Linked DNA regions of Homo sapiens: regions 1, 2 and 3 are each reported to be linked to region 4. Evidence: microRNA targets listed by miRTarBase, many of them from high-throughput screens and not tested one by one. Region 4 holds a microRNA gene; each other region holds the end of a gene's coding sequence.

What was found. Region 4 holds the annotated microRNA hsa-miR-513a-3p (UAAAUUUCACCUUUCUGAGAAGG, at 4,631-4,653, opposite strand). A microRNA usually pairs through its seed, bases 2 to 8, with sites in the 3' UTR of a target mRNA and lowers its output. Matches are read on the target gene's strand: a 7mer-m8 pairs with bases 2 to 8, a 7mer-A1 pairs with bases 2 to 7 and ends in A, and an 8mer does both.
Region 1: the mRNA of MBOAT2 is a reported target of hsa-miR-513a-3p. Seed matches in the 3' UTR shown: 7mer-A1 at 5,109-5,115, 7mer-A1 at 2,144-2,150, 8mer at 1,813-1,820, 7mer-m8 at 1,673-1,679, 7mer-m8 at 1,569-1,575, 7mer-m8 at 1,470-1,476 and 2 more.
Region 2: the mRNA of SC5D is a reported target of hsa-miR-513a-3p. Seed matches in the 3' UTR shown: 7mer-m8 at 1,776-1,782, 7mer-m8 at 4,437-4,443 and 8mer at 6,332-6,339.
Region 3: miRTarBase lists TASOR2 as a target of hsa-miR-513a-3p. Seed matches in the 3' UTR shown: 7mer-A1 at 5,988-5,994.

Annotation. Positions count from the first base shown.
Region 1 is chr2:8,852,630-8,859,742 of GRCh38, forward strand. MBOAT2 (membrane bound glycerophospholipid O-acyltransferase 2) reads right to left here. Exons shown (of 13, transcript NM_138799.4): 13 at 61-6,275. The coding sequence ends at 6,050. Among named protein-coding and RNA genes, the nearest start is that of KIDINS220, 19 kb to the left of the region's middle. RefSeq lists an enhancer at 2,289-2,840 and a silencer at 2,430-2,724.
Region 2 is chr11:121,306,532-121,313,657 of GRCh38, forward strand. It overlaps SC5D (sterol-C5-desaturase), which reads left to right. Exons shown (of 5, transcript NM_006918.5): 5 at 526-6,879. The coding sequence ends at 981. Among named protein-coding and RNA genes, the nearest start is that of SC5D, 17 kb to the left of the region's middle.
Region 3 is chr10:5,762,385-5,769,510 of GRCh38, reverse strand. It overlaps TASOR2 (transcription activation suppressor family member 2), which reads right to left. Exons shown (of 22, transcript NM_001321783.2): 21 at 6,865-6,979; 22 at 5,771-6,482. The coding sequence ends at 6,479. It overlaps GDI2 (GDP dissociation inhibitor 2), which reads left to right. Exons shown (of 11, transcript NM_001494.4): 8 at 1,127-1,298; 9 at 2,873-3,017; 10 at 3,216-3,270; 11 at 3,359-4,288. The coding sequence ends at 3,505. Among named protein-coding and RNA genes, the nearest start is that of GDI2, 47 kb to the left of the region's middle.
Region 4 is chrX:147,208,868-147,215,993 of GRCh38, forward strand. MIR513A1 (microRNA 513a-1) reads right to left here and starts at 4,724; the gene lies at 4,596-4,724. All of the region lies in intron 1 of LOC105373347 (periphilin-1), which reads left to right.

The sequences.
Region 1 (7,113 bases), not on the chromosome of region 4:
GCCAGTATTGTTCTATAAGTGGAATTAAAAGCCTAAGATATTAGCAAACACACACACGCATATTTTTAAACTACTGTTTAATCAGTTGTAAAGACACACAAATTAGAAAAAAAAAACATGTCCTAAACATGTTACATGTAAGTTAAAAACACCTTTAAAAACCAGCAATAAGCCACCAGTGCAGCTCTGACAGACTAGAAATGAGTGGTTATGAAATGAGCACATCTCAGTTTGACTGACACAGTGGGAGTTTTAATTTACCGTACATCAGGAACTAATTTATGAATCTGTTGAAAAATAACACTTCTTTAAAAAAATATTTTGGAATAATAAAAACAGAAAGCACAGAACACCACATTCTATTCTCAACTTGGGAAGGCAAATGTAAATACTAAATTCTGGCTGCTGGAGTTGGGTCTCTCCTCATGTTTGGGCGACTGAGGGCTCAACTACTACTAGGCAGAGATCAAGACAACGTTTAAAGGAAGGCAGGAATGAAATCACACATTTTCACTCTGTATATGGAAGAATTTCTCACTTCACCTGAATGATTTACTTTCATTCCTATGGCCTTCTATCGTGCCCCTTCTGGTTCAGAGGAGCAGTCACATAAAAGTGACAAGATGGACAAGACTGGTTTGGAACACATTTGTGTTCAATGTTTGATTCCTTTTTCCTTGTGATAAAGCCAGAGGCAAATGTACTTCATTGATAAATCTGTGTGCGCAGAACCAAAAATACATAAAATTGGGAAAGAGGCATATTTAAAAAGTCTGTCAAACTCTCAACATATATTTTCGTCCTTTAATGCAAAAGGACAGGGGGGAATATTCAAATTGATTTCCCAAGAAAATTAACCTAAAATAGTGAACGTGAAACAGCTAAGACTCTGGTGAAAGGCAGTCAGTCACCTTTCCCATTTCAAACATGTTACTAAGAAACTGCCTAGTCATTTTACTTATGTTGCTCTGTAACTTTTGGTTTTTCACTGTAGCATTTCCATTTATTTTTAGTGTGTGATTTGATAAAACATGGCTGGAGATGGCTATGAATCGCTGAGTAAGCTTCAGACAGCGGTTCTGCATGGGTCATCACACTATAATTTACAGAACATACAGTCTTAGTGTTGTATTTTTTCTTTATAAAAGTTGTACTTAAAGAAGAGTTATAATCAGTTTTAAAGGCAAGACAAATTAGTTGGTGTAAAAACTGTGTATTTAGGCTGTGTTTCACAAAATTTCCCAGTCAATGGCCTATGGAACGTGTCAGTTCTTTATTGGGATTTGCATAATGTTAAAAAACCTATTAAAATAAATATTATTTTAAAACATACAAAAACATTATTCAGCAGCCTACCAATTAAAATGTAATTGGCTGCAACCTCTGTACAAGAAAAGCCTCAAAAAGCAGCTTAAGCATTGATTATAAGAGCTTTCCTACAAAATACCGATGTGGAAAATTTCATTTTAAAATTTCTGTTGTAATCAGAGTTTCTATAAATAGATTTGACTACTTGGTGTTGCAGAAAAACACTGTAGAGACCCTCTATGTTCTAATCTTTCAAACTCAAATTTCAGGGTGTATTTCTCTCCTTAAATGCAAATCTTTTGCTTCAGCATTGGGAGCACGCGTTCATCAAGAAACCCACTTTTACAAGGGCTGGAGAAAACAGAAATTTCAGCATCTAAGATGAGTGTATCAACGACCAGCCACTCATTAAATGCACACTGGGTTAAATGCAGCAGTTTTATAAGGTATTGAGGGCAGTTAAGATTACATCTCACAGTGTTATTTAGGATTCTGCACCTATATTAAATTTCAGCCAGGAAGAACTATTAACGCCTGGATAAAACTCCACAAAATACTAGCTTATATCTAAAACTCTGGACAAATTTTTAGCTGACACAGATATAGTAGGCACTATTCTGAAACAATTATTTTCTCAAGTAATTTTTCTTTCAATTATAATGTAGAACTGTTAAGACCAATTAACTAATAATTGTGAACAGTTGATAAGGAAACAAAAAAAGTATAAATGTCCAGATTTGTTCATGAATATACAAACTAAATACTTACAAGGTATGAACTTTAAATAGGAGAGATTTTTGTCCTAAAACTGTGATCTAGTCCTTGAGTAAAAGTATAAATTTATAATTATTTTAATGGCAAAAATTTTAAAGCTATTGTTTTCTGCGGTTTAAAATAAGGTGTAACTAAACTAAATATGCTTTAAATATCCTTGAATAACTTTGAGATGTTATATAGTGGTAAACCCTGTCCAGTAGTCAGTAATCTGTATAAAATATTTCAGAGCATATATCTTCTCCAATTCCACACAGCACAGAAACCAACAAAGCAGAGAGAGCAAAAGGAAAACATGTTTTCTTCAGCAGAGACTATTTCATTATGAAACACTCATTGTAAGAGCTATTGCCAGTAGAAAAAGTATGTTGCCATGCCTTCTGATTTAAGGGATTCAGAGGTTTCACTGTTATCATGACAACCTTTTGAAATGTCAGGGCTTTGAGCTCAAGTAGTAAGTCAATGACCATGACAATAGTGTGGACTGTGAATGTGCCCAAGTCCTTGAATCCTACAGACCTTGCTAATGGCTCCGTTCACGACACCCAACTGGTCCTGAACTCTTAGGATTAACCCGTTTGCTTATGGCTGAGGAACTTGGGGTCTACAGGACAGGTGGCTCCTCCAAGTCTTAAGTCTCATGAAAGGCAGAACCAGAATGAAGATCCAGGTCTCCTCCTAGGTCAGCTAGTGCTTAAATGTGAGTTACTGTCACTTTCTAGAAACCTCCTTTTTACTGCACATTTTTCTCAAAAGTGGTATGTTTGGAAATCCTGTGTGTGTCACACATGGTGGAGACCAATAAATATATTTTTGAAGCAAATGGGCAGTAGTGGCTAATAAGAGAAGTGGTCACCAGACATTTTTGAAGCCAAATAAATCTTCTCTATCCTGCCGGATATTTTAGAAGCTAAATAAATTCCCCCAATTACCCTGAGTTCCAATAAAAATACTTACTTTAAGAACAGAATGAGCCACTTATAAAATGGTGACAGCTGAGGCATACCAAATTATACTCTTACTGTTTCAAGAAAATGAAATTGAAGGATGAGTAGTTATTTTTGTTCATTTTTTCCCTGAGTAGTATATAATTAACCAAAAGTATAAATATGATGTTGATTGATCATCTCTAGAGTGATTTCATGATACCTGAATAGTGGAAAATATAAAACATAAATATGCATTGAATCTTATTCTATTGATTAAAAAAAAGCAAGCACATAATACAACGAATCCCCTTTCTATTTAACAGGAGTAGACGTACCAGTTTAAAATTCTTCTACTGTAAGTACTAGAAGCAAAATATTAATCTTTGTGATTATTACTTCTCCAAACTAGAGGAGAGATATCCAAAAACCATTTCATGAAAATAACTAGTTGATTCAGGGGTATGAAAATCAGTCAAACTGGATATGGAATTATTATCTTCGAAGGAACCAGAAAACCAATCAAATATCTTGCTTTCTAGATGACAGTGCCAAGATCATATTCACTGAGCAAGAAACAGGTAACAGTGACTAAGGTTTACAGGCTGAGAAATAAATTCAGGTAACAGAAATGTGATTATTTGTAGGTGGCTAGATAGGCTGAACCAAAAAAAAACACACACACACACACACACACACACACGAACAAAACCCAACAAGTTTGTATTAAGCCTTCTTGTTTTCACTTATGACATGCCTGAACCTGTCTTTTAAATTCTTAATTTGTTCACTTTCTCTTAATAGCAGTCGGATTCTCTGCAACATTAATGAAAATGATCAAACATTTTACAGGGCAGGTACATTCCATGAACATTCTTTCTATTCTCTCACATTAAACAGCTGGCATAATTTCTTTTTTCTTTTTTTTTTTTTGTGAGACGGAGTCTTCCTCTGTCACCCAGGCTGGAGTGCAGTGGCACAATTTTAGCTCACTGCAACCTCCACCTCCCAGGTTCAAGCAATTCTCCTGCCTCAGCCTCCCAAGTAGCTGGGATTACAGGTGTGCGCCACCATGCCCGTCTAATTTTTGTGTTTTCAGTAGAGACGGGGATTCACCACGTTGGCCAGGCTGGTCTCCAACTCCTGACCTCAAGTGATCCGCCCACCTCGGCCTCCCAAAGTGCTAGGATTACAGGTGTGAGCCACCATGCTCAGCCAACATAATTTCAATGCATGGGAAAACAGAGGAAATTTATTTAGTTATCAATCCTTTCCTGGGTAGGGTTAGCCTTATCAGCCGGAAAACACTTACTTTTAGATAAATAAAAATAGATTAGGATATTTCTAAACTTCAAAAAAGACACATGCCCATTTTTGCTGAGACCTCAAAAGCTGCAAGTGCATTTGCTTTTCCTTTCTTCTTTAAATGAAGTATTATATAGCATAAGCCAGATGGTTGCCTTGTCTTTAACTTCATTTGCAAATTTATTAGTGACTCCACCCCCCGAAAAAAAGAGAGAGAGAACCCCATCACAGAAAATTTGCATTTCATTAAAAATTTAAGGCAAAAAGTAAAAGTAAGTTCCATACATAGGTCAAACAAAGGTGAAGTCAGAAGGCTTTGCCCCCTCCCCTCCTACAGGGCAGGAGGTACAATCTGGGGCTGAGGCCACTCCACTGCCTGGCATCAAATCCCACTCTTCTGCTTTCAGCTCCTGTGGCCACCACAGTCCTCTGTGGGATCGCAGGAGATGCTTAGTAATCCAAGGCAAGATTAGTTGTGGTAAAAATGGCCCATAAAATAAAAGCACATTTTTCCACTTACAGAACCTAAAACTCATTTTAGTAAGAGTTCACAGCAAAATTTTAATGTGAGAAGAGTTTGAAACTGAATTTATATTATTCTTAAAAAATGTCACCCAGACTCAGTGACTTTTATTTTTCATTTCCCTAAAAGTTTCCCAAATATGAATTAAATTGTCAAGGATAAGAAATGGATTAGCCAGATAGTAACCTACCTAGCGATTTCTCTTTCAAAACCTTTGAGCAACCTACCAGTATTATTTTCAAAGCCTCTAATTCTACATAATTTATGCCTGATAAATTTAATTTAGAAGTCCAAAGTATCACGAAGTCATTCAACTTTTTTTTTAAGTCTCACATGACGGCGCAGAGCCCTGGCATGGGGGGGAAGCTGCCTGCAGAGTCGCGGCTGTGCCCCGTGCATTCCACCGGAGGCCACGCAGTGCTTCTTCATTCCTGCCTTCCTTCGTCACCTCTCTCTTTTAAGAAAAAGAATAAGCTTAAAATATCACATTACCAAACCTCTCATTATGTTTTAAGAGATTCCTTCTGGAAGCGCTCTTTGACTGCACAAGGTAATTAAACTCTCCAGCAAAATCAGCTACCTATAATTTGGCGTCCATTACTGTTTACAGTTTCACTATGGATTGTAGTCATTTGACATACTTTAAGAAAACCCTTCAAATACTGAGATGTTTATTGCATTTTAAAAATATCCACACTCTTAAATATCCTGTTTCAAATTCCTCCTAAAATCCTTTACAGCACACAACATCAACTACTGCAGTAGCGTTCTCACAATATTACACTTGAAAATACCATTTAGGAACAATATTTTAGGAAATAGAGGGTTTAAGGCAAGACATTCATTTGGAAAAGTTAATTTCTCTCTATCATCCAGATTGACACGATTATTTTTCCACCTCTTCAGTGCCTTGGGATACGCAACATACATTCAGCAACAGGGCACGCGTGTGACCCTACGGACAAGTGCTGAGGTTGGGAGTGCCCACTGAAATATGGAAATATTCTTACATAAGGCGTGGCCCACGGAGACATGGCATGGGAGGGCTTGTTTCACTCCATTTCCAATCTGGTGTACAGGAAATTCCTTATCTATAACTGTCCATTTCCCCCCAGTTAACTGCTTTTCCAACAAACTCAAACCCCTTGAAAAGGTGCTAAGATTGGTTTCTGTTAACATCAAAAAAAAAAAACAGCCCTCAGAGCCTTCCCGATCACTGCTTTAGTGATGAATGTCTCGAGGCTATTTCTTGATTCTGATTGCAAACATTGTTTGTTGTAGAAAAACTGTTCTGTCCCAAAGAATTTTCTCCTTCATCAAACTTTTTGGATTGTGAGAGCTGAATGTTTTCATGTGTATTCTTTCTTCTTTGAGTTTTTTTCACTGGCAACAACAATAATACTAAGATACCAAGAATGTGCAGGCAATAATACCAGGAGCTAAAAGAAAAAGGGAAAAAGTTTATTAAAACTTGATAATTAATAATCCTTAATAACTGCACACTTGTCAAAATGTCACATGGCCCACCTTAGGATGTATTTGTTTACTACATTACTACATTATTCTTTTATTTTTCCCCCTCAGGAGAAGAAACCTGACAGTGTAGGCCAGTGGGTATTTATAGCACTGGATAAATCCAGGCTAATTAGAAGCCTGATTTTCTAGATAGCATATTACATTCCTTTGTAAGGGTCAGAAGGCCATGGTTAAACAGAATAAAAACAAAAATGTACATATTAATACCGGTAGCAATCTGAAAATCTCCCCAATCCAGATAATCAAAAGTTGAGTCAACAAAGAAAATGTGGAGATAGTTAAGACTTTTACCAGTCTGGCCTCACCTGCTATTTACTGTCTCTAAGTTACAAATATTCTAACGGAGGGGAGTGACAGAGAAGCAATATTGCTTCTTGATGGTTACTTTCATGAAGCAAAGAAAGGCCACATTATTAAAAATATTGAAAACATCATTTCTCAAATTATATAAACCAAATGTAACCTAAACTGTATCTATAACTGTAAGTTCAAGTGATTCTGAACAAAGTTCCTGGGATAGAAAATCTAACCCACAGCCCAATCACATTTTTAAACATGTACTAATTTTGTTAAAATGGAAACTGTAGCAGGACTTATTTAATGTCTTCCTGTATAATTATTGTCATATTTGATTCAATAATTTTTTTACGACTCTGTGCTAAGTCATTCTAAATGCTAGAGTAATAAAGAATTTATAAAAGAATAAAGTTTTTGATCTCTAAAATATCACCATCTAATATG
Region 2 (7,126 bases), not on the chromosome of region 4:
GCAATGTATGATTATAAATTCTGTTCTCTATTTCCAAGAATTTCCTCTACCCATATTAAATGTCTAAGTAGCCATAATCATAACAGGTACAGGGTGCATTTTGTTCATATTCTTCTTTATGGGTCTAAGGGGCTGTCTTAAAATTCGTCTGTTCCGGTAACAGGTACACATGGACTTACAGAGGGAACAATAGACATTAGAGACTCCAGAAGGTGGGAGGATGGGAGAGGAGTGAGGGATGAGACGCTCCCTATTGGGTACAATGTGCACTCTTCAGGTGCTAGGTACACTAAAAGCCAGACTTCACCACTGTGCAGTATATCCATGGAACACCACTGCACTTGTACTCATAAATCCATATAAAATTATACTGTTTTAGGGCGAAGAAGGACATTTTATAGAATAAATAATTTTGCTGATCTCTACAGGATTTGTTAGGTTGTTTCCAACATGAGTGTGAGAAGCTAAGTTGAATGTTGCACGGGGTAAAGTTTGCAGTGCTAATTGTGTCCTTTTCTCCTGCAGCGCCTACATAAACCTCACCATATTTGGAAGATTCCTACTCCATTTGCAAGTCATGCTTTTCACCCTATTGATGGCTTTCTTCAGAGTCTACCTTACCATATATACCCTTTTATCTTTCCATTACACAAGGTGGTTTATTTAAGTCTGTACATCTTGGTTAATATCTGGACAATTTCCATTCATGACGGTGATTTTCGTGTCCCCCAAATCTTACAGCCATTTATTAATGGCTCAGCTCATCATACAGACCACCATATGTTCTTTGACTATAATTATGGACAATATTTCACTTTGTGGGATAGGATTGGCGGCTCATTCAAAAATCCTTCATCCTTTGAGGGGAAGGGACCGCTCAGTTATGTGAAGGAGATGACAGAGGGAAAGCGCAGCAGCCATTCAGGAAATGGCTGTAAGAATGAAAAATTATTCAATGGAGAGTTTACAAAGACTGAATAGATTATTGCCCAGTTATTCTTAAGTAAGGACAAAGAAGGAAATATCATCGTATTTCTTTTTTTTAATAAGGAAAAAATAATATCCATACAGTCAAGATACATAGTAAATGGTATCATTTGGAAATCAGCATCGTGGGCACTGCTGAGGAATGATCCTAGTGGTAGGTCAGAAGAAGATGCTGTGAACACCAGGACTTTAATCTTATGCTTAAAATGCCAGATGTTGTTCGGGGGACAACTTGTATCTTTCTAGCAGCAGATCTGTAGTTTGTATAGCCTCAACAACAATTTTAAATAAGATGGAGAATAAATTATTGAGGGGACTAGGCTATATGCATTTGCCTTCATCCACCCATGTTTATTAAGAATCATTGTGCTTAATAATACCAAGACTAAGCACCATAACCAAGAAATACTAATGTAAAGATTGTTTCTTGTTTCAGGAATGGTTAATTCTTCAACGTTGGTATGATAATGATAACTTGTTTTGACTTGAATAAAGTACTACATCAGTGTGGAAAAAAATTCTGATACATTAGCAGCTATGTAAATGACCTAATTGATAGCAGGTGTAATAAGACTATCGTCTTCCTACACATAGGAGGCTCATTCTCTGGACACACTATCACCTATTACATTTTACTGATTAACAAATAAATTGGAATTTAAAAATATCGATATCACCATGATTTAATCCAGATCTGGGATTATGTAGCTAAACATTGTGATGATTATTATTTAAAACCATTATTTAATAAGAGTAAAAATATGTGAATCTGGATATATTTAAAAAAAGAAATTTGATGCCCAGATAATATATTAGGCACTACTGATTTTTTAGTTAAATTGATGCACTACACTTTTGATGTTTGAAGTTACAAACCTGTAATTTTTTTGTAAAGGAAATAATTGCCAAATACCTAGGCCCATTGCTGACGATTAGTTCTAAAATCTTATTCCTCCTCTTCTCCCCTCACTTTTCCCTACTTCCTCTGCAAAAAGATTTAACAAATACATTCATAAGGAAATGTGTGTTGTAACAAATATATTGCAAAAACATAGTTTGTAAAGGCATTCTATAAGCTATTTATGTAAAATCAATAAAAGTTGATCATAATTAAACTGTATCAGTTGAGTATTATAGCAGCACAAAGTATTCTTTGTACAGATTTTGTGCCAATTTGAAGCCACAGAAATGATGTGGATTGTTAATTGTGTTTTAGAACATCCCCGGACACTCAGTGTCACAGGGGGAAAGAAGTGGGTACCACATTCTGTTTATATTTCACATTTTAACTAGATTTGAGTGTTTTTAGCAAGAAATCAGTCTTAAAATCTAATGTCTGGGATCCAGAAGAAAATGTCTTTAATCTGTGAGTTATTGTCACAATGTCATCTTATTTAAATGTACCAATTAGCATTTTGTAATAGGCAAATGTCATTTAGTGCTTTTCACCAATCCCACTCACCCCCGGTGCTCCGCCTTGCCTAAGAAAAAGAAATTAAGGAGAAGTAAACTTTATTTCCTAATATAATGTCAGCTGATATTTATTGAGCTTTTCCTCTTTGCCCAGAGACTAGGACCCAAAGAAGTTAAGTAACTATTCCCAGGTTTATTTCTCTCTCATATGATGTCCCATGTGGATGTTTGTGGTCAGTGGACAGCTTTCCACCTAGTCTTTCTGCGACCCAGGCTCCTTCCTCTTGGGGCTCTGCCTTTCTCTCAGTCCATAGAGCCCTCTTTGTTGAAAGAGCACATAGGAAAAGAAGGAAAAGTCTGTGTGGAAAATGTTTCTGGGTCAGGCCTGGAAGTGGTGCATATCTCTTCCGCCCATGTTCCTTTGGACAGAACTCCGTCACATGGCCCACCTAGAGAGATTTTGGGAAATGTGTCCAGCTGTGTGCCTGGGAGGAAGGGGGCACCATTTTCTTGAGCAGCTAGACAGTTTGCCGTATTTGTGGTGTTCTCCTCTTGTTGATGTTGAAATGGTGAATGAGCCATAAAGTATTTCAGGTTATCCACACACTAATCATCTCAGTGTCTTTAATTCTTAACTCCAATATGAATGTTTAAAGCTTCCTCTAGATTCTTATTCCTATATAACTAATAGAGAAGAAAGGACAGCTTCCTATGGGGAAGACAGAGGCTTCCTCATAGATGTTAGGAATAATCAAACTTGCCCCTGCCCTTTCACCCGTCTCAAATTCTGGTCTTTTAAAGCAGCGTTATGTTAAGTAGTCCTAACATTGTAATATACAGTACTGCCACATTCTCCTACTTTCTATTAGAGGAAGTCAGAGAATATTTATGGAAGTGAGGACCCAAATTACCTTCTACAGATGACTTTTATAGTTACAGGACAGAAAGTGAAAATCAAGGTTACGTTTTCTACTTTTGTGGTAGAAATTGAGAAGTGGGTGGATATGGTTCGAGAAGACCTTTCAGAAACACAGAGACTGAGTCTTTGTCTTCCATGCTGTCTCTGCAGTACTGAGTGAATTTCCTTATACCCTTGTATCATGTTTTCCTCCCATCTTCTAGAAGCTGGGGACAGATTTGGAAGAGAATTACACAAGTTCAGTTTTTTGATACATGGATTTTACAGTGCATGCAGGTTATTTATGTAGAGAGGAGGTCTGGGAGAAAGATGGAAACTAGGGAGATGACTGAGAACAAAGATATTTGGGATTAACACAGATAGAAGAAAAGTTTGAAACCATGAGATTGTCACAGCATGAAAAAAGATATTCAAAGACACTAACCAACTTGAGGGGTGCAGTGGTCTGAATGTGTCCTCCAAAATTCAAATGTGGAAATGTATTTGCCAGTGAGATAGTATGTAGAGGTGGGGCCTTGAGGAAGTGATTAAGTCATGAGGGCTCTGGGATTAATGACTTAAAAAGAGGTGTGAGGCAGCTGTTCAGCCCTTCTGTCTCCTGTCCCTTTTTTTTTTTTTTTTTTTGAGATGGAGTCTTGCTCTGTTGCCCCAGGCTGGAGTGCAGTGGCGTGATCTTGGTTCACTGCAAGCTCCACCTCCCGGGTTCACGCCATTCTCCTGCCTCAGCCTCCCGAGTAGCTGGGACTACAGGTGCCCGCCACCACCACGCCCGGCTAATTTTTTATATTTTTAGTAGAGATGGGGTTTCACCGTGTTAGCCAGGATGGTCTTGATCTCCTGACCTCATGATCTGCCTGCCTCGGCCTCCCAAAGTGCTGGGATTATAGGTGTGAGCCACCATGCCCAGCCCCTTCTGTCCCTTCTAACGTGAGGACCCAGCAACAAGGTACCATCTTGAAAGCAGCAACTGGGGACTCAGCAGACACCAAACCAACTGGTGCTTAACCGTGACTTCCCAGCCTCCAGAGCTGTAAGAAAATAAATTTCTATTATTTATAGATTACCCAGTTGAAGATACTTTGTTAAGGCAGTACAAATGGACTAAGACAAGGGGGAAGAAATTTGCATTCCTGATCTTCCCAACTTCTTCAAATTCACAACACTTGAATGACAGTCTTATTTCAGCACTTACTGCTATCACCTATTACTTTTATGTGTGTCTTACCTATTTGAGATGCCAGATTCCTTGGAAGTAGAGACCGTGTCTGAATCATCATTGTATTAAACCACTCATCCTTAACAAATGCCCAAGCCATGGTTAAAGTTCAATAAATACTTTGTTGAATTTATTAATAAAATGGCAGAAATGTCATTCTCTTCCATATATGTTTAATAAATCCCTGATAGGTGCTAAGCACTGCACTAGGTAAAAATTCTCTTCTGATGCTGTCTTTTTGGCCAACCATTTTTTTATCATTTATTCATTAGCTGACATTTGCTAAGTGCTTTGGAGGGGTCAAAAGGGGAAGTAATGAGAAATCAAAGATGGTCCCTACATCAAGGATAAACTATCTTTTTTTAGTCACTCAAAGTCATAACCCTTTGGAAACAAAACCCACCAGTACCCCAGATTTTGACCACAGATGAATCAGTACTACAAGGACTGGTTAGAGGGTTGAATGAATCTGTATACTCAGCACTTAACACAGCACTCTGGGTAAAAGAAAAAAGATCCTCAAAGATATTAGTTGGTTACATCAAGAAAGGACAAACTTAGGTTAATCTATAACTTCATCTCAGAGGAACAGGAACTTTGGAGATAAACAGGGCTCTGCCACTTGCAAGTTGCACCATCCCTGGTTTCTCCATCTGTAAATTGATTAAAACACTGCCTATCTAATAAGATTAAATAAGTTAGAAGCATTCAGTTAAATGTCAACTGAAACTATTGTTCATGTAAATTGTGCTTGATGCTTTTTCTTTCTAGATTCAATGATTATTGTCATTTTACCTCCATAGGCCCTCAATAGAAATCAGTTGCAGAGGGCAGAAGCCTAGATATTTTCACCTTAAAATTGGAGGGTGAAAGACATTGAGGTGAAGTAGAGATAGAGGGTACACAGAAAAATCGTATAAGTAAAACTAACATCGTTAACATTATTTACTGTAAGTTATCTTTGTAAGAGTGGTAAAATACATTGTGTTGTTAAATAATTTCATTTAAAAAATGCATCACTTTGTGTGTTTTTATATTGCTAAAACCATAAGGCCAGTCTACAAGGTTTGTAGATAAAATAGAAACATACCTTCCTTGAAAAGCAGAATAAATTTTTTAAAGGCAGGAAGGAAGTGTTTGAACCATGTGTCAACAAGCTTTACTGTCAAAGCAGGCTTTTGGTATGGGAAGAAAAATACTTATAAATACTTGTTTTAATATTTGCTTTATTAAAATACATTTAAAATACAGCATTTTTAAATCTCTAAGCTCAACTTGAAGATATAAGAACAGTAAATTTGATAAAAATGAGAAATTACATTCCCATTTCTTTAACAATTTGTAAATTCCAATTATCCTGAACATTTAATACCATTTACATATTTTATTAATCACATTTTCTTAAACATTTGATAAGAGATTTAATATTTTGATCCAACTACCAAAAAAGCAGACTTGTGTACTTGACAGATTTTTCTAAACACTTCACAACTCACGATTCAAACAAAGACAAAATAGCATATCAAAAGTTAATCACTCAGTTGGAAAGCACTCATACCATAGGCTTTTATTCATTTCTTGAATAATTTTGTTATATCTTCCTCTTTTAGGCTGCAATGAGCTATAATTGCACTACTGCACTCCACGCTGGGTGACAGAGCAAGACCCTATCTCTAAAAATAAAAAAGTATATATATATAAAAATATCTTCCTCTATTATAATTTAACTCATTAAGCCATTTATTTAGATGTAAACTTGCCCCCCTGACATGTGGTATGAAACAAATAGAAACCTAGAAATTTAGTGCATATTCAAATATTAAGACAGACACTGGTGTGGTGACTTTTGTCTGTCGCTTCATTGGGACGTTTTTTCTTTCTGATCAACTTAATGAAATTATAATTTACTATAATTAAGTGTAGCCATTTTTACTGTAGAGTTCAATGATCTTTGATGAACGTGTACACCCATGTAACCACCACCCCCAATCAAAGTAAAGAACATTTTCTTACCAGAATAAATTTCCTCTCCGTTTGCAGTCATTCTCCCCAGCCCTAGGTCACCACTGATCCACCTTCTGTTACTGGAAGGTTAGTTTTCTTCCCTGATTTAGAATTTCATATAAATTAAATCAGATAGTATATACTCTTGTGTTTAGTTTCTTTAGCTTAACATGTTTAGAGATATTTGCTGTTGCCTGTGTCTGTAGCTTTTTGTTTTCATTGCTGAATAGTATTTCATTGTAATATACCACAGTTGGTTTATGTATTTGCTGATGAATATTTGTGTTATTTCCAGCGTGGGATTATTATGAATAAAGTTGCTACAAACATTTGTATACAAGTCTTTGTGTGGCTATATGTTGTTATTTCTCGTTGGTAAATATCTATTAGATTTGCTGGGTCATAGGGAAGAGATATATATGTATACGTTTAATTTTATAAAACACTGTGAAACTATTTTCCAAAGGGTTGTACCATTTTACCCTCCTGCTCCCAATGATGAGAATTCCATTTTTCCCGCATGTTCACTAACACTTAGTATCGTCAGTCCTTATTTGTAACCATTCTAGTGGGTGTGAGGTAGTGTC
Region 3 (7,126 bases), not on the chromosome of region 4:
TAACCTCCATCTCCCAGATTCAAGCGATTCTCCTGCCTCAGCCTCCCGAGTAGCTGGGACTACAGGCATGCGCCACCGTGCCCAGCTAATTTTGTATTTTTAGTAGAGACGAGGTATCTCCATGTTGGTCAGGCTGGTCTCCAACTCCTGACCTCTGGTGATCCGCCTGTCTTGGCCTCCCGAAGTGCTGGGATTACAGACGTGAGCCACCGCGCCCAGCCCTTTGATCATTTTTGAATCAGGGTTTTTTTTGTTGTTGTTTTAGGAGTTCTTGATGTATTGTGGATATTAATCCCTTATTTGCAGATATTTTCTCTCATTCTGTGAGTTGCCTCAACTCTTGATTAGTGTCTTCTGATGCAAAAATTTCTTTATTGTTTTTTTAAAAGAGACAGTGTCTTGCTGTGTGTTGCCCAAGCTGGACTCAAAGTCTTGGGCTCAAGCAATTCTCCTGCCTCAGCCTCCCAAGTAGCTGGGGTTACAGGCACATGCCACCATGCCTGGCTATGCACAAGATTTTTAAAATTTTCATGAAATCCTGTTTTCATGAATTCTTTCCTTTGTTGCCTGTGTCTTTGGTTTTAGATACAAGGAATTACTGCCAACTCCAATGTCATGAAGCTTTTGCACTGTTTTCTCCTAAGAGTTTTATAGTTTTAGATACCACATTTAGGTCTTTGTTCCATTTTTAGTTTTTGTGGATGGTGTCAGGTAGGGTCCAACTTCATTCTTTTGCATGTGGATAGTTTTCCCAGGACGGTTTGTTGAAATGACTTTTTTTCCCCTCATTGAATGGTCTTTGCAACTTTGTCAAAAATCACTGTACTGTGGATGCGAGGGTTTATTTCTGGCTCTCTCCTCGTTTCATTGGTCCATACGTTTGTCATTATGCCAGTACCACACTGAATTGATCACTGTAGCTTTTTAGTGAGTGAGTCCTCCAGCTTTGCTGTTCTTCTTTTAAGATTGTTTTGGTTGTTCCAGAATTCAATCCCTTGGGAACCAATATGAACTTGAGGATGGTTTTTGATATCTTAACAATACTAAGTCTTCCAAACTATGAACATGGGATGTGTTTCCCTATATCCTTGTCCGCTTCAGTGTCTTCTTAAATGCTTTGTTATAGATTGCTCGCTGTAAGCAGCTCATCTGTGACCCCAGCTACGTAAAAGATCGGGTAGAAAAAGTGGGCCAGGTGATCAGAGTTATTTGCATCCTCAGCCACCCCATCAAGAACACCAATGATGCCAACTCCTGCCAGATCATTATTCCACAGAACCAAGTCAATCGAAAGTCAGGTGAGGTTTGAAGACCAGCAGATGTTGGTAGAATTTTGTAAGATATAATTTGCTTTGTGTTTTATCCCAAATTCCTAATTTTGTATGCTGTATTAGTGAACAGACCTTGGTTTACATATGGGGGAAAAAAATCTTTGTACCTCCTCCTGCTCCGGCAGCATTGTGTCAACGCGGACAGATTCAACTCGGAGCCAGCCTTGGACTTGTGTCCATCACCTGTAGAATGAACAGACTGGGCTTGGTGAACCCTGCGTCTCCCAGCTCTAACTAACAGTAGGTTCCTGTGGAGGTTTATGCTTAATAGTTAACTGACCCGAGTATATTCTTGAGCTAATGACATAGCTGCTTCTGTGTCCTTATTTGTAATCCTAGTACCTACATTTGATTCTAGCAGTGTCCACCTTTCATTTCTGTGATCAGGACATGGCTCTAAAATTGCAAGTCCTAACTTATTTGTCTTAGCCAGTTGTTTGTAACCCTTCGATGTTCCCATTTTCCTTTCAACTAGAAGCCCCAAATCTTTTTATTTATCTAAAATTCAGCTTAAAAAGGGTAATCAGGCTTTATGGGACAGGTAAGAGCTATCTGTATAATGATTTTTTTTCCCCCATATAAGAAATGAAATCATGGGAGGCCAAGGCAGGAGGCTTGCTTGAGGCCAGGGGTTCAAGACCAGCCTGGGTAACATAGTGAGAGCTCGTCTCTACAAAAACAAAAAACAAACAAACAAAAATGGCTAGGTGTGGTGGCACACACCTGTAGTCCTAGCTACTTGGGAGGCTGCGGTGGGAGAGGATCACTTGAGCTCAGGAGTTTGAGGTTACTGTAAGCTGTGATTGCATCCCTGTCTCCAACCTGGGTGACAGAGCCAGACTGTTAAAACACAAAAAAAAACCAATCACAAAAGATGATCTGTAGAACAAAGGGACTGGACTTAATCTTCCACAAGGTTCCCAGGCGGGTCCTGGGTCCTTGCAAGTCTGAAAAGAATAAAGGAGGTCCCAGAGTTTTTTTTTTTTGGCCTTTAAATGCTCTCCTATCCAAATGATTTTCTATCCTGGAAATGACACAGTTAACTGGATGAGTGGTATACAGACCAAGTCTAATCGAGAATTCTATCGTTATGCCAACTCAAAAGTGGTTTATGTGGATTCTGCAGTTTTACATTACTGTAATAAGTAAATGAGGACGTCAGTACTAAGTACATCCTTTCTTAGCCATTCAGAACCTTTCTAAATGCAAGGTCCAGAATGGAAGAATCTCCCAGAATAGTTAATATGGTTTGGCAGGTTTTTTAGTTAGGTATGACAGAGCTGTTAAGAGATCTCATTCCAAACTTCAGCAGTTCGCTACCACTTCAATTCTTAATCTCTAGTAGGTTAAAAGAAATTCCTATTGTTAAATATCTGTGTACTTTACATCCAACTCTGTCACCATTTAGAACTTAAGTGTAGAAGATCTTGCCTATTGAGAGTAATTTTAACTCACACCTCATGACATATGGGTGATACCTGAGTATGTTGGGTCCCAGATGGAGACACTTGAGGCAGTGAGCTGGTATCATTTGTTTCTAGATATCTACGTCTGCATGATCTCCTTTGCGCACAATGTAGCAGCACAAGGGAAGTACATTGCTATAGTTAGTACAACTGTGGAAACCAAGGAGCCTGAGAAGGAAATCAGACCAGCTTTGGAGCTCTTGGAACCAATTGAACAGAAGTGAGTTGTGTTCTTTTATATCTGCCGAGATGCAAACTGAGGCCTTTGATTGTGGCTCCATGGTGGGACGAATGTGAGGGCAAGGCAGGTAGCTGCTGGCTGCTCTGTGGGATTCATCTGTACCTCTCAGTTGACCTCAGGCAGAGCCATGGTCAGGTGTGGGACCAGCTCACCTGACTGAATTCTCTCTCCCTCCAGATTTGTTAGCATCAGTGACCTCCTGGTACCAAAAGACTTGGGAACAGAAAGCCAGGTGAGTATGGAAGTGTGAAAGGATATGGGCAGGTTTCACTGGAAGACATCCCTCCATGGTCTTAAGTCTTCGTAATTTTTGTTTTCAGATCTTTATTTCCCGCACATATGATGCCACCACTCATTTTGAGACAACGTGTGATGACATTAAAAACATCTATAAGAGGATGACAGGATCAGAGTTTGACTTTGAGGAAATGAAGCGCAAGAAGAATGACATCTATGGGGAAGACTAACAGCAGTACATGTTATTATGTAATTAGGACACATTTAAAATTTGGCAAATAATGCATATAATGAAATCAATATTGTAAGGCCTGCTTTTGTAATGAAAATGGAGAGAATGAAGAGCGCTGTGCCAGTAAATACTCCCCTTCACCTTTCTAATTATTAACTTGTTTTCATGGAGTGGCTATTCAGCATTGGCAGTTACCACATTCTGTTCAATTTAACCAAACTGGCTTTTTTTTTTTCTAGTGAAGTTAAACAAACATTGGGATACCGACACAGACAACTTGAGACAGTTTTTTTAATCTTTTAATCAGTGTAGCTATGTGCTGCTGCTGCTCAAGAGCTGGATCCATACAGGTTGTGTGTCATCTGTCCTCTTGAGGTTCAGGAGATTCTAAATTGAATATTCCACGGTTTGGGACAGCATCCGGAAGTTTTCCCTATGACTTTATATTTTGTATTATGTCAAATGTTATGGCAGGGCCCAAATAGCATAGCCACAAGTTTGGTTTATGTGGGCATAAAATTCTAACCAAACCCCAGACATAGGGAGTCATTTGGAGAAAGCCTGTATGTGGTGTTTTAACCTAATAAAGTTGATGAGAGAGAAGGGGAGAGGAAGCGAACATAAAGCGGGTCAAGTGTAGTGCATCTTTTGTATCTCAGGCGTGGCTTCTTCAGTGGACCAAGCTGCAATGCAGTATTGACTTGACAGAGCCTCTACTTCTGTCTCAAAATGGCTCCAAATGATTTCTGTACTGCAAAATAAAGCCAAATTCTGGAAACTACTGCCCGGTGTTGGTTTGTGTGTCCTGATTGCAAGGGTCACAGCTGCCGTGCTTCCTTTGGTAGCACTGGAGTCAATGCCAGTCAGAATGCTCAGCAGCGGAAAGCGTGGGTGTCTTCTGATCTGGAAGGATCACAGCAGGTCCTGTCGTCTGGCTTCCCTGTGAGTAGACCTCGAGTTTTATTCTTGACACAGTACCATTACTAGACCTATCATCTTTGTGCAGAAAAAATAGTGTTTAATGATTTTGCTTGTAGCAGCAGTTATAAGGGAGTAAGTGAACTGTCAGGTAGAGTAGGTGCTTTAGTAAATAATTTTTGTGTAGTTGAAATGATAAAGTGTTTACATATAAGGCCCTTTCCCCTGACAGTGATGAGCCTCACGGCAGATGCTGTTGTTTACCACAGATAAACACTGACTCTTCAGAGTATGAAGGAGACAGACTAAGGTAGATGATGTGTTAAAGGAACTAGGGTGGTGATTTAGATTGTTATTCATATTGCCAAAATGATGGAGCTTCTCGACTTCAGTTGATGTTTTGGGCTGGATCATTCTCTGTTGATAGGGTTGATTGTAGCAGCATCCCTGGCCTCCACACACTAGATGGCAACAGCACCATCTTGGAATGACAACCAAAAATGTCTCCAGATGTTGAGAACCACTGCTTTACCTGTATGATAAAATTATCTGAAGTCCCAGCAAGCCTTTTTCTCTTCCCATGCAAAGGCCCAAGCTGGGTTAGTAATAAGTGAAAAAAGAAAAACCACGCATCTTCATATTCTTCATTCAACGTATTTACTGAATACCTTGTGTGCCAGGCCAGTGGAGACAAAGATGATAATGGTAGTTACTGGGATAACTCAGTTTGGTGAACACATGATGTGGTTTGGTTATTAGTAGAGTTACAGAAAAGGTAGCATGGAAACTGAGATGGCCTCGTGGGTGTTGGAAGGCTTTTCAGCAAGGGGAGGTGAATGTTATTAGGTCCAACCTGAAAGGTGCATATTTCAGGCAGATAGATAGGTGTTTGGCATCTTATAACTGCTCACTTTCCTTTTCCTTAGTAATCTGAAAGTAATTCACTGTACTGAATAGTTAATGGTTCCCTTAATAGACTCTTGTCCTTGGAAAAATAAAATGAAATGACTGGGGTTCTATTAGTAACTGAAAAATTGTCAACAATTAAAACTCTAAAACCTACTCATGAGAAAATAAAGCTCTTTTGTTTAGGAATAATAAAAGCCGACTTAATGACTTCTGAAAGAAGTAAGTGTCCCTGTAAAGGCCAGGTGAAACTGCCATTCTTTAACCTGTTACTCGGTGTACTTGACTGCGGAAAGAACCCAGAAACAGAACAGGCCAGGCCCAAAGGATAGAAGTGTAGGTTTCCTCTGGAAGCTTACTGTTCTGCTAAATGACCTAAAAATTGCTAGAACACTCCAGATAAGTCAATTTCTGCTATAAAAATCATTGCAGAAAGAGATTATTTTTAGTTGTCTTTATTTAAAAAATGAAACACATTAGTTACAAAAACCGTTGCTCCAAATAGATACCGTGTATCTTACAAATGTTTTTTGCTTGGTTTTGAGTGTTTACTGTAGAAATTTTCAATATCATAAATAAATGATTATTTCTTTCTCAGAAAGCTGATTTTTGTAGTGTAGTATTTACAAATACCGTAAGTGAAAAATGATAGTTTATAAATTTGTACCATTTAGGAAAAAATGTTTTATGTAGTGTTGTTTGTGTAACAGCAAATAAAACCATTTAAGATTATAGTTTTTACAAGGGTGGTAAAACCTTTAAAACAGAGCATAATGTGCATCGTATGCCTTTCTGACATTAGCATGCAAAAACAAAGCTATTTGTTAAAATAGACTTATTTTTGCTCCAACTAAGTAAACATGTAAAATTATTTTTAATAAGCTCAATAGCTTAGAAGGCATCTTGTTTAAAATGAAAATAATTTAAAACAATATCTAGCACTGCAACCCAAAGCTAACAGACAACTGCAATGCCACTGTGACATATTTCAGCAAAATATAAAAAATGAAAACTTTCCAAGTTGTAGAACATTGGTTTTTCAAATGTAAGACTGTTCACATGTGTATTCACATGTTCACAAGTTTTCCAAAGGGAAAATACTAATTTTTTATTGGCATCATCCATATCCAGGCAGGCTGTAGTTGAGTCACCTGAAGAAACACAAAATTGATAAAGAACTTCTTAAAATAATACGAACAAGAAATATTTTATAAGCGGGATGCTCTAATGGGGAAAACGCCTATGCATTCTAAGGTTACATTATGTTCTGTACTGACGATCCAAGTTAACAGCAAGTGAAAATGCACATTAGATAAAATAGGTAATTTTAGTAGATGGTTACTTCATTTAGTGATAATTTAGGAATTCCTATTTATGCCAAATAGCAATTCCACCCCTAAACAAACACTTTAAATTTATAGCATGAAGTATGTAAACAACAGTTTCCCAACTGTTTCCCTTAGACACAAATGTCAATATTTGCCATCAACAACTCCAACTCACATGGGAAAGTTACATAAAAAGTGTTCTTACCAATAGCTACTCCTAAATGGAGCTGCTATTTTTTCTATGTTTTCTATAAAGTTATTTACATCTGTAACAAGGATTCCACTATTTTCAAAGACTTCTCTGGGGATAGTAGGCTTGTCTGTTAAAAAAAAAAAAAAACAACTTTTGGTTAATATAATTAATGTACTTTTATATAACAGGACCTGGTTTTTTATTTTAAAAAATCTGTGGAACTTCCTCGTGTGAGGGGTAGGGGGAGAAAAGGTGTTGGGTTCCAAATTAAGAA
Region 4 (7,126 bases):
GCTCTGAGAAGAGTGCCACCATCCTCCAGACCCCAGAATCATAGATCCACTGACCGCTTGTAGTTAGGCCTGGAAAACGCGTAAGCACTCAGTGGCAGCCCACTGGGGGCTAAACCATGTAAAGTCACAGGGTTGGAGCTGCCCAAGGCTTTGGGAGCCCAACCCTTGCAGCAGTGTGCCCTGGATGTGGGACATGAAATCGAAGGAAATCATTTTGGAGCTTTAAGATTTAATGACTTCCCTGCTGAGTTTCAGACTTGCACAGGACCTGTAGCCCCTTTCTATTGCTGATTTCTCCCAAGTATTTACCCAAAACTTATGCCTCCATTGTATTTTAGAAGTAATTAACTTTTTTTTTTATTTTACATGCTGATGGGCAGAAGGGATTAGCCTTGTCTCAGATGAGACTTTGGATTGTGGACTTTTAGGTTAATGCTTCAATTAGGTTAATGCTTGGGGGACTGTTGGGATTGTATTTTGCAACGTAAGAAGGACATGAGATTTGGGAGGGGCCAGAGCAGAATTATAAGGTTTGGATCTGTGTCCCCACCCCAATGTCAGGTTGGATTGTTCCCCAATGTTGGAGGTAAGGCCTGGTGGGAGGTGATTGGATCATGGGGGTGGAATTAAATAGTGGAAAACAATGACTATTTAAAGTGGAATATGTTAGTAAATCTGAGAGAAAGTAGAAAACACTTAGAAAACATTTCAAATATTTAAAATGCTATAAAAGCAAGTCAAAAATCAGAAAAAAAATTGTATGCTAGAATGAAACATGGCATGTAAAATTATGTTTCAAAATTATTTACTAGGCTACTGCATGTTTTTACAAAATATTCATGATGCATTATTTGAAATCATTTATAAGAGAATGGCACAAAATTGTTGACCTCAACCTAAAACCTAAGTATAAATACAGATAAATATGTGGAAAGATCCACCTATAAATTTTATCAAGTATTATATCCACATTATGATGTTACTGGTATTATGGTATTATTTCATTACTGCTATTCAAGTTTTTCATACCTTTTATGTGTTTTCCAAGTTATTCTGCAATAAATAGGAATTATGCTCATGGTCAGAAAAAAAAAGATATCAACAAAAATGTATTTTTCTTTGGCAGAATTCTGATAAGAATAACTTGGAAAAGTGTAAAATTTGTTTTTGGCAGTTATTTTTCCTCTTTTGACTCCCTAAATCTATATATACTCAGCCTGTTCAGTTACACTTCTTGCCTTTCCATGTTCCTGACTACTAACCATAATAAATGTTAACTTATTATAAATTATGAGGATAAACAGATATATTCACATTAACGATGTGACAGATTACAGTATAGCAAGGAAGGTCCAGAATGAATGCATTAAATGCGATTTTTTTCATGTGCAGGGACTACAATACAGATCAAAACATCCTCAACACATGCTAACAGAACTGACATTTTATTGAAAAACACAGATAATTTTTTAAAACTGGTAAAATTCTTAGTATACACAGGAGTGCTAAATTATATGTATTTATGCTGATATATGTTATTACATTATATATTAAATGTTATTTACCATATTATTAAATAACATATATTTTTAGTCTTCTATAGATTGACTTTTATTATCTCAATGGTCTTCTTTGAAGACCAATTTTAATTTTTTCAAAGTCTATTTTATCAACTTATTTTTAATCAATTTTATGTTTATATTTTGATATCATATATAATTTAATGGTCAAAAATATTTTCTGTCATTTTTTTTTCATAGAATTTTATAGCTTGACATTTTGGCCTAAGAGTGTGTTAATTTCTGTATATGGTTTGAAATATGGATCAAAGTTCATGTTTTTCATATGTGTATCACATTTTCCCAGCATCATATTGTTTAAATACTATCATTTCTTCATTAGATTGACTTTACAATTTAGTCAAAATGAATTGGTGACATGTATGGGTAATTCTGGTCCTTCTATTTCTATTCATCCATCCTTTCTTGAGGCTCACACTACATTGGCTAAACTAGTTACAGAGTAAATCTGGAAATTACCAGTGTAGATTCTCCAAGTTTGAGATTCTCTTTCAGATTGTTTTGCATATTCTAGTTTATTCACCTTTTATATTAGCTTTGGAATCATCATGCTAATGTCTACAAATATTTTTCTGGGACATTGGCTGGAATTGCATTAACTCTATAGATCAATAAGACTCTATAAATCTATAGATTTGAATCCTTCAATCCGTAAATATGATACTCCTCTCCACTTAATAATTATTTACTTTTTAAGTGTGTTTACTTGCACTCTTAGCATACAGATATTTTTGGTTTTTAATTGATAACTGTAACAAACTGCCACAAATTTAGTTGTTTACACAACACAAATATATTAGAGTCTAAAGGTCAGAAATCTAAATTAGGTTTATCTCAGCTAAAATGAAGGCATTGGCAGGGCTTTGTTCCTTCTGTTGGCTCCAGAGGAGAATCTACTTGATTGTCTTTAGAAGATCATTCTTTGGCTCATGGACTTTACCTCCACCTCTATTGAATACTGTAGCATTTTCCAATGTTTCTCTTATTCTAACCACCTTCCTTCTACTTATAAGAACCCTTGTGATTATGTTGGACTCACCTAGATAATCTAGGATAATCCCAATCTCAAAATATTTAGTCATATCTGCAAATTTCCTTCTACCATAAAATGTGATGTTTTTGAGTTCAGGGGTTGCTCTGTAAACATCTTTTGGAGGGGGACTGTTATTCTGCATACCACAGAGATCCTATAATTTGTATTTAGAGTTTCACCTAAATATGTTATGTTTATATTATTTTATGTTTTAATTAGGTGGATTTAATCATTGTATAATATATACATATATCCAAACATCATGTTGTACACCTTAAATATATACAAAAGTTATGTCAGTTAAACCTTAATAAATTGGTAGAAACACGGATGAATGATACAAAAAAGTATTTCACTGAAAGAAAAACCACAAATAACAGTGAATAGAGTACTCTTTTGAGAAATCATAAAAGAGATATGATACTAACTAAATTCTCTTCTTTCGTTTTAGGATATGACTTAAAATTATATAAGTACACATGCATTCACTATAATACAGTTTTAGAAATTATATACTAAAAAGTGTTATCACTTTGGAAATTTCTATGTACATACAGCATTTCCAACTGACAGAATTTTTTTACTGTTCAGAATGTTCCCCCGCCCCCAATGAAAAAGATGCTATGTAATCTATTAGAGCAATTGTTTTAATATTGAAAAAGATACTTCAACTGATTGTTTTTTTACTTCCAGACATTAATGGTCTTAAACATATTCATCCATTCTGAACGTAACAAAACAAACTAAAATCCTGCCTGTAACCATATAGTAATTGTTTTTTATACTTTCTCCCTTTTGATGTATATGCTATAACCTCTATTTCCATTGGAATCAAATTTGTATTAATAACTTACTATTTATAACATTTTTAACACATTTCTGCAATATAAGTAGCTTATTTATAACCTACTTCTCAAAAATGCATACTAGTTTCATGCTGCAGATGGCCTCACACCATCCGGCACTTGTCTTACTCTTTTGCCCTCTCTCTCTTTTTTTGTGTGTTTGTGTGTGTGTGTATTTCCCTCTATCTCTCTCCATTAGGTTAAGAGTTAAGAAGTGTCAACACAAGAAAATGGGACCAGGCGTGGTGGCTCACGCCTGTGATCTCAGCCATTTGGGAGGCTTAGGTGGGTGGATCAGGAGGTCAGCAGTTCGAGACCAGCCTCATCAACATGGTGAAACCCCATCTCTACTAAAAATACAAAAAGTAGCCAGGTGTGTTGGGGCACACCTGTAATCCCAACTACTCGGGAGGCTGAGGAAGGAGAATCCCTTGAACCTGGGAGATAGATAGAGGTTGCAGTGAGCCCAGATCACACCGCTGCACTCCAGCCTGGGCGAAAGAGCAAGACTCTGTCACACACACACACACACAAAGAAAATGGGGAGAGAAGACTAGGAGATATCTCTTGAGTATCAATTCCATCATACCCTTCCATTGTTCATACATATTCTTAAAAAACGGGGAAAAAAGATAATGAAAAAGAGTGAAATATTCTTGGGTGGACTATGCTTAATCCTTCATAAATTGGTGACTTAAGGCTTTGAAAGGTATTTTAAAAGTCAATGAGAAAATGTTTTAGTCTTTGACAGAAAATGGACGCTGTGGATCAGCAATGAAGGGACCTGAGAGGCAGGAGAGTCTTTTGGGAGCGCTAAAGGAGAATCCTTGCAAATGATGACTAGTTGATAAGTGAAAAAAGTTTAGAGAATTTAGGAATCTGGAGTAAAGCATTCCAGCTGACGAAGAATGGCTGTGGCCTCTATCCAATGTATTTCCTATTTGAGCCAAGCCTCATTTGGCAAAAATAAATTCTTAAGGAACCTAAGTGCATGCGTTTTCTCAGGAGTCCACAATTCCTATGTACAGTCGTCTAGAAGGCACAAAAAGTTCCTTGAAGTGTAGCCCAGCACTGAGGAGTGGGTGCACAGGATGCAAAACAGGCATCACCATGCTCGCAGCTACACCCCCATCCTCAGGGACACCACATATGCAGTGCATGCTGTACATTACCCTTCTCAGAAAGGTGAAATTTATATTTTAGTTCACATAAATGACACCTCCCTGTGAAAGGCACTGTACGCTGAATGGCTGAATGTGGCATCCCAGACCAAATGCTCCCTTTTCATGCTGTTTTTATTCAAGTCCCTATAGGTGTATGCCTTCGCATGGCCACCAAGATTTATGCCAAGGGACAATGCAACTTGTAACCCCCAGCACTCCCCTTTTCATCCTGCCCCGAGTGAGATTTTGACATGCAGATTTTTGTTTTGTTTTTGTTTTCAGATGAAGTCTGGCTCTGTCACCCAGTCTGGCATGCATTGGCGTGATCTCAGCTCACTGCAACCTCCGCTTCCTGGGTTCAAGCACTTCTCCTGCCTCAGCCTCCCGAGTAGCTTAGGTTAAAGGCACACACCACCTCGAATGGCTAATTAACACGCAGATTTTTAGACTGATCAAGAATAGAGCTTTTCACTTCATCTCTTCCCCAAAGGCGAGTAATCCTTGTCTGAATTATCCCATTAGTTTTCACGTTAATTTGCTTGTCTCATTAAAAATCCTCAAAATCAGGCCAGGCACAGTGGCTCATGCCTGTTATCCCAGCACTTTGGTAGGCCAAGGCTGGTAGATCATCTGAGGTCAGGAGTTTGAGACCAGCCTGGACAACGTGGTGAAACTCCATCTCAACTACAAATACAAAAAATCAGCCGGGTGTGGTGGTGGGTGACTGTAACCCCAGCTAATCTGGATGCTGAGGCAGGAGAATCATTTGAACCCAGGAGACAGAGGTTGCAGTGAGCCGAGGTTGTGCCGTTGTGCTCCAGCCTGGGCAACAAAAGTGAAAATCCATCTAAAAAAAAAAAAAAAAAATCTTCAGAGTCGGCCGGGCATGGTGGCTCATGCCTGTAATCCCAGTACTTTGGGTGGTCCAGGTGTGCATATCACTTAAGGCCAGGAGTTTGAGACCACCCTGGCCAACATGGTCAAACACCATCTCTACTAATAATACAAACTTAGCGGGGTGTGGTGGCTCGCGCCTGTAATCACAGCTACTCAGGAGGATCACTTGAACCTGGGAGGCAGAGGTTGCAGTGAGCGGAGATAGTGCCAATATACTCCAGCCCGGGTTACAGAGTGAGACCCTGTCTCAAAAAAAAAACAACAAACAAACAAAAAAACCCCAAAAACTTTTAAAATTACAGTTAAGTAGGCAGGGCCAACCACTCACCAAAGCTCTCTATGGTCCTAAAACTCCAGCTGTGCTGCACAGACCCTAATTCCAATGGAAAAACCACAGAATACAACCACCTGGATCCAAACTACTAGAGAAGAGTCAGACAGTACCAGGTTGGAGAGAGCAGAAATTTAATTTCTTCTTCAGGCTATGCAGTGGGAAGAACCCATAGAAATTAATACGAGAGACAGACAAGACAGATAATGGGCTGGAAGACAAGAAATGCTATTTAATTTTTCTTAGTTCCATGGTTCTTTATAGTACATTTATTTGGGCTCAGTCTCTCTCTCTCGCTGTGTGATTAACAATTAATAGTGCTAGGATTTTTTAGCTTTAATATTTACTGTTTGCATTAATATATTTTCCATCCTTTTACCCAACTTTCACGTAGGTCTTCATATTTAAAATGGTTTCGTTTTAGAAAGTGTACAGCTGTTTCTTATTTTTACATAATTTGACAGTGTCTCTCTTAATTGAAGCATTTATATCATTTATTATAATTATTTATGTACATGCGTTTAAATCTACTGGCTTTCTAGTTGTTTTCTGTACTTCATCCTTTTGTAATTCCTAATTTTCCTGTTTTTCTGCCTGATGGTAGATTTAGTATTTTTATCATTCAGTTATATTTTCTGCACTCTTGGCTTATTAGTTGGTCACTTTAAAAGAATAGCGGTTGCTCTGGAGTTTTCAGTGTTCATATTTAATTCATCACAGTCTATCTATCTTCAAAGAATATTTTACTAGTTTATGAACCCTGAACATTTGAGACAGGTCTCAGTTAATTTCAGAAGTTAATTTTTCCAAGGTTGAGGATGCACACCCATTACCCAGCCTCAGGAGGTCCTGAGGGCGTGTGCCCAAGGTGGTCAGAGCACAGTTTGGTTTTAAATATTTTAGGGAGACATGAGACATCAGTCAAAATATGTAAAATGAATGTTGGTTAGGTCCGGTCCAAAAAGGTGGGACAATTCAAAGTAGGGAGGAGGCTTCCAGGTCACAGGTAGATGAGAGAGAAATGGTTGCATTCTTTTGAGTTTACTGATGAAGGTTTCCAAAGAAGGCAATCAGATAAACATTTATCTCTGTGAGCAGAGGGATGACTCTGAATAAAATGGGAGGCAGCTTGAATTTTCCCTTTAACTTAGCGATTTTGGGACTGAGATATTTCCCTTTCACATCCATATCTTCATCTTTACCATTTTCTGGGTTTCGAATTTTTATGTGGTGATTCATGTTTCTGCCTGGTATTTTATCTGCCTGAGGAAATGTGT